Linked DNA regions of Homo sapiens: region 2 is linked to region 1. A link means that fine-mapping ties the variant in region 1 to the expression of a gene that starts in the linked region. Tissue or cell type: whole blood. Region 1 holds a variant in brackets; the other region holds the start of a gene. All regions are shown on one strand. Distances are from middle to middle.

Evidence for each region. PIP is the estimated chance that this variant, and not a neighbour inherited with it, causes the effect.
Region 2: it holds the start of PPT1, and the variant in region 1 is fine-mapped to the expression of PPT1 in whole blood (TOPMed, PIP above 0.99).

Annotation. Positions count from the first base shown.
Region 1 is chr1:40,135,143-40,141,598 of GRCh38, reverse strand. No RefSeq gene overlaps it. Among named protein-coding and RNA genes, the nearest start is that of RLF, 23 kb to the left of the region's middle. The variant C/T (reference allele first, on the strand shown) is at 2,847.
Region 2 is chr1:40,094,999-40,099,268 of GRCh38, reverse strand. PPT1 (palmitoyl-protein thioesterase 1) reads left to right here and starts at 2,017. Exons shown (of 9, transcript NM_000310.4): 1 at 2,017-2,154. The coding sequence starts at 2,031. RefSeq lists an enhancer at 2,153-2,282.

The sequences.
Region 1 (6,456 bases):
TTGGAGTTACATAAACAATAAATAATTTTTAAATATAAGTATGTATGTCCCATATTCAACTTAACTGGTCATCCTGTATTTTATCTGGCAACCCTGTCTTTAACCCAACCATGTGAAAAAATCAAATTGACCACTCAACATCAGGCAGTTAAAAACAATGACGAAGTGGGCGTTTTTAATTGGAAGAATAGACAAACAAGAAAATGTGTAGGGCTGGGGCCAAGAGTTGTTTAAGTGAGTTTAGGGCTGGTGGAGCCTGGGCCAAGGAGACTCTGGTGATCTGGGCTGGCAGGTCTGGGGCTGAGGTAGTAGCTTACAAGGTCAGGACAACTAGGTTCAGAGCCAAATAAATGGTTCTCATGGTCAGGAATGGCAGGGTCATGGCAAAGCCTGCAGCTCAAGGTCAGGGTCAGTAAGAATGGGGCCAAGGAGATGGCCCATGTGGTCAGGAGATTGAGCAAATAAGAAAATATATTGAGAATAGTGAGAGCCAGGTTTCTTACTCTTGGAGACAATAAGTATGAAAAGGGGAAAGACTAGAACAAACCCTGTAATTAGAGTCAGAGGTGTGAGCCTATAGGGTGTGTGTGTGTGTGAATATTATATATGATATACAAAGAGAGACAGAAGAGTAGATGTGTGTGTTTATGATATGTATAGTGGCTTTTTGGTTTTTCAAAACACACTAATTTGTAGCATTTGCTGATTTCCACGGTGTAAATACTCCCAGCATGAAATAATACTAGTTTCACAGCCACCCGCAAAGTTCCTGAATATTTAACAAGCAGCTTTTGCAAGTCCATATGAGCCAACTCCACTACAGTACTTCGGAATGTACATCATACGTATGATTGTGTGTGTGTGTGTCCAGACATATTTTTCCTAGTTGATATCTTGTTTCCTTGTCCTACTGAAAGGACTTGCAAGACCGACACACCCATAGCAATGAGTGCACCTAGCATCTACATCTTGACTTCCAAGTATCATTCTTCACTAAAAAGAAACCAAAAGTTCTTAGAGAAATGGCTGATTTCATGACTAGGGCAGTGAAAAATCTTACTGGTTCAGGAAGAAAGGAAGTATTCAAAGAATGAGGATGTAGTAAGCTAAGTAATGGCCCCTGAAGCTCTAATCTCTGGAATCTGTAAATATTATCATATACAGAAAAAGGATCTTTAGAGATATGATCAAGGAACTTGAGATGGGGAGATTGTCTTGGATTATTCAAGTGGACTTTAAATGCAAACACAAGTATCCTTGTAAGAGAGAGGCAGAGAGAGATTACGCAAAAGGAGAAGGCAGGAGGCAGAGACTGGAGTGGTGCAGCCACAAGCCAAGTGCCAGCTGGAAGCTGGGAGAGGCAAGGAACGAATTCTCCCCTAGAGCCCAGAGGAAGCATGGCCGTGTTAATATTCCTGATTTGGGCCCAGTGAAGTTGATTTTGAATGTCTGGACTTCAGAACCATGAGAACTGCAGCTGTTTTAAGCCACCGAGTTTGTGGTACACTGTTACAGCAGGCATAGCAAACTAATACAGATGAGAAATGTCAAAAGAACACAGGAGCCAGTGTAAAGAGGCTCCCACTGGCCAAATCAGGGACAATCTAGTCATCAAAGTAAATTATGATTGTAAGGAATTATAACTTATTGAATAAATTGGGAATCCTTAAGCCCACACTAATATAAATAAAAAATTAATTAAAAAGGATACAGGAGACCAGGTCCAGTGGCTCATGCCTGTAATCACAGCACTTTGGGAGGCTGAGGCAGGCAGATCACTTAAGGTCAGGAGTTTGAGACCAGCCTGGCCAGCATGGTGAAATCCCATTTCTACTAAAATTACAAAAATTAGCTGGGTGTGGCAGCGTGCACCTGTAGTCGCAGCTACTCAGGAGACTGAGGCATGAGAATCTTTTGAATCTGGATGGCGGAGGTTGTAGTGAGCCAAGATCTCGCCACTACACTGCAGCCTGGGCAACAGAGCAAGACTTGGTCTCAAAAAAAAAAAAAAAAAAAAAAGAGGATACGGGAAAGGAAATGATACTTTACTATAGAATTCAAGTAATAAATGTAGAAGAAACAATGGACATAGGAAAATCTCTATTTGGTGGCCATTATAGTAATAATCCAGGCAAGAATCATTAATGGATGCTAAAACTACTAGGTGTAAATTCGTGTATATTTATGTGTGTGTGTGTGTGTGTGTGTGTGTGTGTGTGTGTGTGTATATATATATGGAAAGAGAGAGAGAGAAATAAAGAGATAAGGAGGCAAATATGATAAAATGCCTCTGGTGGAGATTCTTCAGGATTCTCTGTACTAATCTTGCAAATCTTTTCTAAGTGTGAAATTATTCAAAACCATTTTTTAATTGTGGCAAAATATACATAAAATAAAATTTACCAACCTGTCCGTTTTTAAGCATATAGTTCAATAGTGTTAAGTACATCTGCATTGTTGTGCAACCAATCTCCAAAACTCTTATCTTGCAATCTAAAACTCTATACCCATTAAACAACTCCCCATTTCCCTTCTCCCCAGCCCCTAACAACCACTATTCAACTTTCTGTCTATAAATTTGACTACTAAGTACCTGATATAGGTGGAATCATACAGTATTTGTCTTTTTGTGACTGGCTTAGCGTAATGTTGTCAAGGTGCTACATCCATGGTATAGCATATGTCAGGATTTCCTTCCTTTTTAAGGTGGAATAATATTCCATTGTATGGATATATCCTATTTTGCTTATCCATTCATCTGTTGATGGACATTTGGGTTGCTTCCATGTTTCAGCTATTGTGAATAATGCTGCTCTGAACATGGGTGTACAAATAACTCTTCAAGA[C/T]CTTGCCTTCAATTCTTTTGGATATATACCCAGAAGTATCAGTGCTGGATCATATGAAAATTTTATGTTTAATTTTTTGAGGAACTGCCATACTGTTTTCCATAGCAGCTGCACCATTTTTCTCTCTTTTCTTTTCTTTTCTTTCTTTTTTTTTTTTTTTTTTTTTGAGACAGAGTTTTGCTCTTGTTGCCCAGGCTGGAGTACAATGGCGTGATGCTGGCTCACTGCAACCTCCGCCTCCCGGGTTCAAGTGATTCTCCTGCCTCAGCCTCCCGAGTAGCTGGGATTACAGGCACCCGCCACCACGACCAGCTAATTTTTGTATTTTTAGTAGAGATGGGGTTTCACCATGTTGACCAGGCTGGTTTCAAACTCCTGACCTCAGGTGATCCACCCGCCTTGGCCTCCCAAAGTGCCGGAATTACAGGTGTGAGCCACCGCGCCCAGCCAACAGCTGCACCATTTTTCATTCCCATCAACAGTACACAAGGATTCTGATTTCTCCACATCCTCACCAAAACTTGTTATTTTCTTCATATTTTTGATAGTGGCCATCCTAATGCGTATGAGATTGTAGCTCGTTGTTTTGATTTGCGTTTCCCTAATGATTAGTGATGTCAAACATCTTTGCATGTGCTTTTTGGCCATGTGCATATCTTCTTTGGAGAAATAACTATTCAAGCTCTTTGCCCTTTTTGTTTTTTTTGTTTTTTTTTTTTGCGACGGAGTCTTGCTCTGTTGCCCAGGCTGGAGTGCAGTGGTGTGATCTCAGCTCACTGCAACCTCCACCTCCCAGTTCAAGCAATTCTCCTGCCTCAGCCTCCCATGTAGCTGGGATTACAGGTGCACGTCACCATGCCTGGTTAATTTTTTTGCATTTTTAGTAGAGACAAAGTTTCACTGTGCTAGCCAGGATGGTCTCGATCTCCTGACCTCATGATCCTCCTGCCTCAACCTCCCAAAGTGCTGGAATTACAGGCGTGAGCCACTGTGCCCAGCTTATTTGCCCAATTTTTAATTGGGTTGTTTGTTTTGCTGTGAGAACTCTCTGTATATTCTGGATATTAACCCCTTATCAGATATAGGAGTGCAATTATTTTCTCTCATTCTGTGGGTTGCCTTTTTACCCTGATTGTGTCCTTTAGAGCATTGTTTGTTTGTTTTTTGAGACAGTTTCACTCTTGTTGCCCGGGCTGGAGTGCAATGGCACGATCTCAGCTCACTGCAACCTCCGCCTCCCAGGCTCAAGCGATTCTCCCATCTCAGCCTCCTGAGTAACTGGGATTACAGGCGCCCACCACCACACCTGGCTAAATTTTGTATTTTTAGCAGAGACAGGGTTTCTCTATGTTGGTCAGGCTGGTCTTGAACTCCCAACCTCAGGTGATCCGCCCGCCTCGGCCTCCCAAATTGCTGGGATTACAGGCGTGAGCCACAGCGCCCAGCCTAGAGCATAGTTTTATCTATTTTCACTTTTGTTGCCTGTGCTTTTGGTGTCATATTCAAGAAATCACTGCTAAATCCAACGTTATGAACAATCGTTATAAACAACGTTATGTTTTCTTTTAAAAGTTTTATAGTTTTAGCTCTTATTTGAGGTCTTTGATCTAATTATTTTAGGTCTTCGAATTAATTACTGTATATGGTATAAGGTAGGGTTTTAACTTTATTCATTTATATGTGGATATCCAGTTTTCCCAAAACTATTTCTTGAAAAGACTGTCCTTTCCCAGTTGAATATACCTGGCACCCTTGCCAAAAGTCATTTGATCATATATAGGAGGGTTTATTTCTGGGCTCTATTTCTACTCCATTGGTCTATATGTCTGTCTTTATGCCAAGAGCACACTGTTTTAGTGACTCTGGCTTCATTAAAAGTTTCAAAATCAGAAAATGTAAAACCTACAACTTTGTTTTTCTTTTTAAAGATTGTTTTGACCATTCAGGGTCTCTTGAAATTTCACATAAATTTTAGGATGGATATTTCTATAAAACAAAAACTTTTAAAAATGCTTTTCTATAGAAGGAGATGGCACCATTACCTATTCTTATAATTCAGGGTGTTCTTAAAATAGTCATGACTGGCCACAGACATGAAATTAGGGGCACTTTTGAGATATGCCTTAATAGTACTGGAATCCTGTCCAGAGAAAGTTGAAAAGCCCAAGACAACGTTTTATGAGATTTTTTCCTTCCCTGTTTGTGCCAATTAGAGCAGGCTCAGCAGCTTTCTGGTCCACCTCCCCCAAGGCTATTACGTCGGAAAAGAGGGCTCATCTCTCATGGGTTTATTTGTTCCACAGGCCTTTTGGGGGTCATAAAGAGTTTAGTGAGTTTTGATAGGATTGCTTTATCTTATTCAAAGATAAAGATAAAATTTAACAAGTACTGCATAGTCACAACATCTTTTATGGCCATGTATCATTCAACAGAATAAAATGATCTTTGATTCATTTGCTCAATGTACTTGAAATCAAATCATTCAATATGACTCTTCTCTTTCTAAGATTAGAAAAATAATAATGTATATTTTTAAAATACATGTACACAGATGCTGGCTCTGTACTTACTAGGTAAGGCTGTTAAACTCTTTGTGTCTCAGATCTTTAAAATTGAAAACTAGTAGAAACTACATCATGGGGTTCCCTGAGGATCAAATGTGTTAATATATGCAAAATGTCTAGAACAATGTTATGTAAATATCAGCCATTATTATTCTCTTATTAGGTGTTGTGAGGATTAACGTAAATGAGATTACCCTTGTGAAGCTTGTGGTACAGTGCCTGGTACATAGAAAGTGCTAAATAAATATTGGCTATCATTATAAACAGATATTTCTGTGATTTATTATGAAGCCCACACCTTCATTAGGTACATCTTACCTTTCTTTACAACTTGGATACATGGGGAATTTGTTATCACAATAAGCATGGATTGAGTCTTCCTCTGTCATCCAGGCTGGAGTGCAGTGGTGTCATCATAGTTCATTGCAGCATCGAACTCTTGGGCTCAAATGATTCTCCCACCTCAGCCTCCTGGGTGGCTGGGACTACAGGTGCACACCACCGTGCCTGGCAAGCAACTCATTTTTCAGGCCCTGTGGTTGCGTTGTCCAATATGGTAACCTGTGGCCACATATAGCAATATGTCTGTCTTTATGCCAGTATCACGGTTTTAGTGAAATATGAGTAATACAAATTGAAATATGGCTAATACAAACTGAGAAGAGCTGGCCGGGCATGGTGGCTCACGCCTGTAATCCCCGCACTTTGGGAGGCCGAGGCGGGTGGATCACCTGAGGGGAGTTCGAGACCAGCCTGGCCAACATGGTGAAACCCCGTCTCCACTAAAAATACAAAAATTAGCTGGGCATGGTGGTGCACGCCTGTAATCCCAGCTACTCAGGAGGCTGAGGCAGGAGAATCACTTGAACCCAGAAGGTGGAGGCTGCAGTGAGCCGAGACCACACCACTGCACTGCAGCCTGGGTGGCAGAGTGAAACTCTGTCTCAAAAAATAAAAAAAGTAAAATACACACCAGATTTCAAAGACTTAGTACAAAGCCGGGCATGGTGGCCTATACCTATAATCCCAGTGCTTTGGAAGTCCAA
Region 2 (4,270 bases), 41 kb after region 1:
TAAAATAAAATGCTTATACAATAAGCTTATTTTTCTTAAAACAAAACTGTATACTGTACTGTATAATGCTTTATGATTCTGCATTTTTTTTTCTTTGAGACAGAGTTTCACTCTTGTTGCCCAGGCTGGAGTGCAGTAGCTCAATCTTGGCTCACTGCACCCTCTGCCTCCTGGGTTCAAGTGATTCTCCTGTCTCAGCCTCCTGAGTAGCTGGGATTACAGGCACCCACCACCATGCCCGGCTAATTTTTTGTATTTTTAGTAGAGATGGGGTTTCATCATGTTGGCCAGGCTGGTCTCAAACTCCCAACCTCAGGTGATCCACCTGCCTCAGCCTCCCAAAGTGCGCCCAGTGGATTCTGCATTTTAATCGACTTTTCAACTAACAACTTACCTCTAGTCCCAATGGCATGGAATAGAAGAGATTACAGACCGTGGGTTTGTAATCGACTTTTCTTTTACAACATATTAAGGGCATTTTTCATGTCACTTTATGTAAATTTACCTCATTTTTCTTTTTTGAGAGAGACAGGGTCTCACTGTTGCCCAGGGCAACAGCGAGATCATAGCTCAGTGCAATGGCGAGATCATAGCTCAATGCAGCCTTGAACTCCTGGGCTCAAGTGATCCTCCCACCTTAGCCTCCCCAGTAGCTAGGATTACAGGCACATACCACCACCCCTGGCTAATTAAAAAAAAATTTTTTTTTTGTAGAGATGGGGTCTTGCTATGCTGCCTGGGCTGTACTCTCTTTTTATTTATTTTTTATTCTTATTTTTTGAGACAGAGTTTTGCTCTTGTTGCCCAGGCTGGAGTACAATGGTATGATCTCAGCTTACCGCAACCTCTGCCTCCCGGGTTCAAGAGATTCTCCTGCCTCAGCCTCCTGAGTAGCTGGGATTACAAGTATGCGCCACCACACCCGGCTAATTTTGTAATTTTAGTAGAGACGGGATTTCTCCATGTTGGTCAGGCTGGTCTCGAACTCGCTACCTTAGATGATCTGCCCACCTCAGCCTCCCAAAGTGCTGGGATTACAGGAGTGAGCCACCGCGCCCGGCCCTATACTCATTTTTTATAAAACTGGCCTCATATTATTCCATTGTATAGTGGATACACTCTAATTTCTTTATAAATTATTTAAACTATTTTTTGATGTTTTGTTGAAAAAAAACTTGAGCAGGGAACTGATATTATGAAGGTGGATTGAGGGATGAATGTGGCAATAGAGCATAAAATGAATTAAAGAGGAGAGAATGGAAAAGGAAATGGTTGATGAGAGACCCTTGAAATAATCCAGCTGAGATTAGGCCAGTTAGTGGCCATGGGTTTCCCCCTCACTCTTATGCATCCAACATATGCTTTCGTCCGTCTTGAAGTCCCGACATTTCTAGAAAACACAGTTGTCTTTCTCCTCTCTACCTTAGCTCATCTCAGTCCTTCTGAATTTCATCTTTGCTTGTTGAAATCCTACCTCTCCTTCAATATCCAGAACAAACCCCACACCCTGCCATGATTGGTCCTGGCTGGAAACCGTCCCTCCTTCTTTCTTCCTTCCTCTGTGCATGTTTCTTGCAAAGGCAGTACAGGGCAGTGGTGAAGAGCAACGACTTTGGAACCACCAATTTGCTATCTCTGTGACCTTGGGCACCTTACTCAGTGCCAATTCGCAGTGCCTCAGTGTCCTCACCTGTCAGGGGGAGAAGTGCATACAGCATTGTTATGAAGAGTGAATTAGTTAAAGGTTGTAAGAATAGTGCCTGATAGCATCTGATCAGCACTGAATATATGTTAGCAATTATTTTGATTCACCGCAGAGGGCGGTCTACGAGAGCGCAGAGCCCCACTCGGCCAGCGGGGTCTGGCGGGGGACCTGTCGCGCTGAAAGCTCCAGGGTAGGGCCGACGCCCATCAGGCTGGGCATCCGTTCGGGATGCGCAGGTTGCGATCTGCAACCGGCGGCGCCACGCCCAGGCGGGCGGAGCGCGGTTCCCGGAGTCTCGCGCCCGCGGTCATGTGACACAGCGAAGATGGCGTCGCCCGGCTGCCTGTGGCTCTTGGCTGTGGCTCTCCTGCCATGGACCTGCGCTTCTCGGGCGCTGCAGCATCTGGACCCGCCGGCGCCGCTGCCGTTGGTGATCTGGCATGGGATGGGTGAGTGAGTGAGAAATTTAAAAGGGTTTGGCGATTCTCTCTCTTCCTAGCCTGGGTTCGCATCTGCAAAATGCGGGTGTAGAGGGCGAGGACGTGGTCCCACAGCACGCGGCTGCCTCGACATTTTAGGATTTGAAGGATCTGCATTGGAAAGAGAGAAGGGGAAGGAGCCGTCCCCTTCACTGGAAAGAGAGAAGGGGAAGGAAAGAGAGAGCCGCGCACGGCGTTGAAGTTTTACATGCTGTCCTTGATTAATCCTTACAGTAGTGGCGTCAGGATGCAGCATCTCTCACTTGGTCAGGCTAGGTGAGCTGCGGCTGGCTATATGACTGGCGCATCTACCCTTTTATTTATTCCTTCACACATTGAACAGAGATTTGTTAGGCACCTACAGTTCATTTACAAATTGAGTAACCCTTATCTGAAATGCTTGGGACTGGGAAGCATTTCGGATTTTTTTTTTTTTAATATTTGCATATATACAAGAGATCTGGGGGGTGGGACCCAAGTGTAAACAGGAAATTTATTTATTTTTCATATACACCTTATACACATAGCTGGAAGGTAATTTTATGCAATATTTTAAATAATTTTGTGCAACCCATCACATGAGGTCAGGTGTGGAATTTTCCACTTGTGGCATCATGTCTGCGCTGAAAAACTTTCAGATTTTGGGTTTCCCATTTTCAGATTAGGATGCTCAACCTATATTCATTTAACACAGTTATTGAGCACCTACTAGGTGCTGAGGATACAGTAGGGAACTAAACAGACTAAATTCTTTGTTCTTTTGGAACCTACTCTCCAGTAGGAGAAGCAGATTATAAAGAAATTAACAAGTAAAACATAACATATCAAATGGTGATATGTGCAACAGAGAAAAATATAGTAGGGTGTAGGATAAAAACTGGAGGTGGGGGCTTGCACTTTTAATAAAGCAAAGTTGGGAAAGAATTCATTGAAAAAGTGACATCTGAGTACAAAACTGAGGTAGATGAGGACAGTTGCCATTTGGCTGTCTGGTAGAAGGAACAGTAAATGGGAAAGCCCTGATGTGGAAGTATGTCTGGTGTGTTCAAGGGACAGCATTCAGATCAGCGTGGCTGGAAATGAGTAAGCAAGGGGAAGAAGTTAGGAGTTTAGTTTGGAAGGGAGGGGCAGGTACAGAAGTTATTGGGCCTAGTAAGACTAATGCAGGGACTTTGGCTAGAGTGTCATGGGGAACTTTTTGAGCAGATGAGTGACATGATCTGACACATTTTTAAAGAATCACTTTAGTTGCTGTATTAAGAATAGATCGTAGGGCGTCATGGATGGTCACAGGGAGACAGGTTAGGAAACTATTGCAATAATTTAAACAAGAGATGATGACTTGGAACTGTAGAGTAACAGTAGAGGTGTTGAGAAGTGGTCAAAGTTTGGATAGATTTTGAAGGTGGATTGCTAACAGATCAGACTTGGAATAAGAGAGAAAGAAAGGAGCCAAAGATGACTCCACAGGTTTTGGCCTGAACAATTGGAAGGGTGAAGTTTTCATTTTACCAAGATGGGGAAGCCTGTAGGACAAGCTGACTTAGGGTGGGGGAAAGATCAAGAGTCTGCTTTTGGGCTTACTAAACTTGAGATCCTCATGAGACACCCAGGAGATGTTGTAGAGGCATTTGGAGTGTGGAGTCTAGGACAGAGATACGGGTTGGAGATTTAAGTAGGGAGTCTTCGGCATACAGCTAGTAGTTAAAGGCTAGGTGAGACCACCTAGGAAATGAGCGTACACAGAGGACTAAGCCCTGAGGCACTCCATTCCATTTGGAGGTGGAGGAAATGAGGAGAAACTAGCAAAGGAGGCTGTAACCAAATAGCCGGTGAAGTGGAGGGGTCAGGAAAGCGCAGTGTCCTTGAAGCCAAGTGAAGAAAATGTTTCAGGAAGAAGGGCATGATCAACTGCATCAAATGTTGATAGGTCATGATCAACTGTATCAAATGTTAATGGGTCAAGGAAGATAAAGGCTGACAACTGATTATTGGATTTAGCAATATAAAGATGATTAATCTTGACAAAAGCAGTTTTGGGAGAGTCGTGATAGTGAGATCTTTATTGGGATGGGTTACAGAAAAA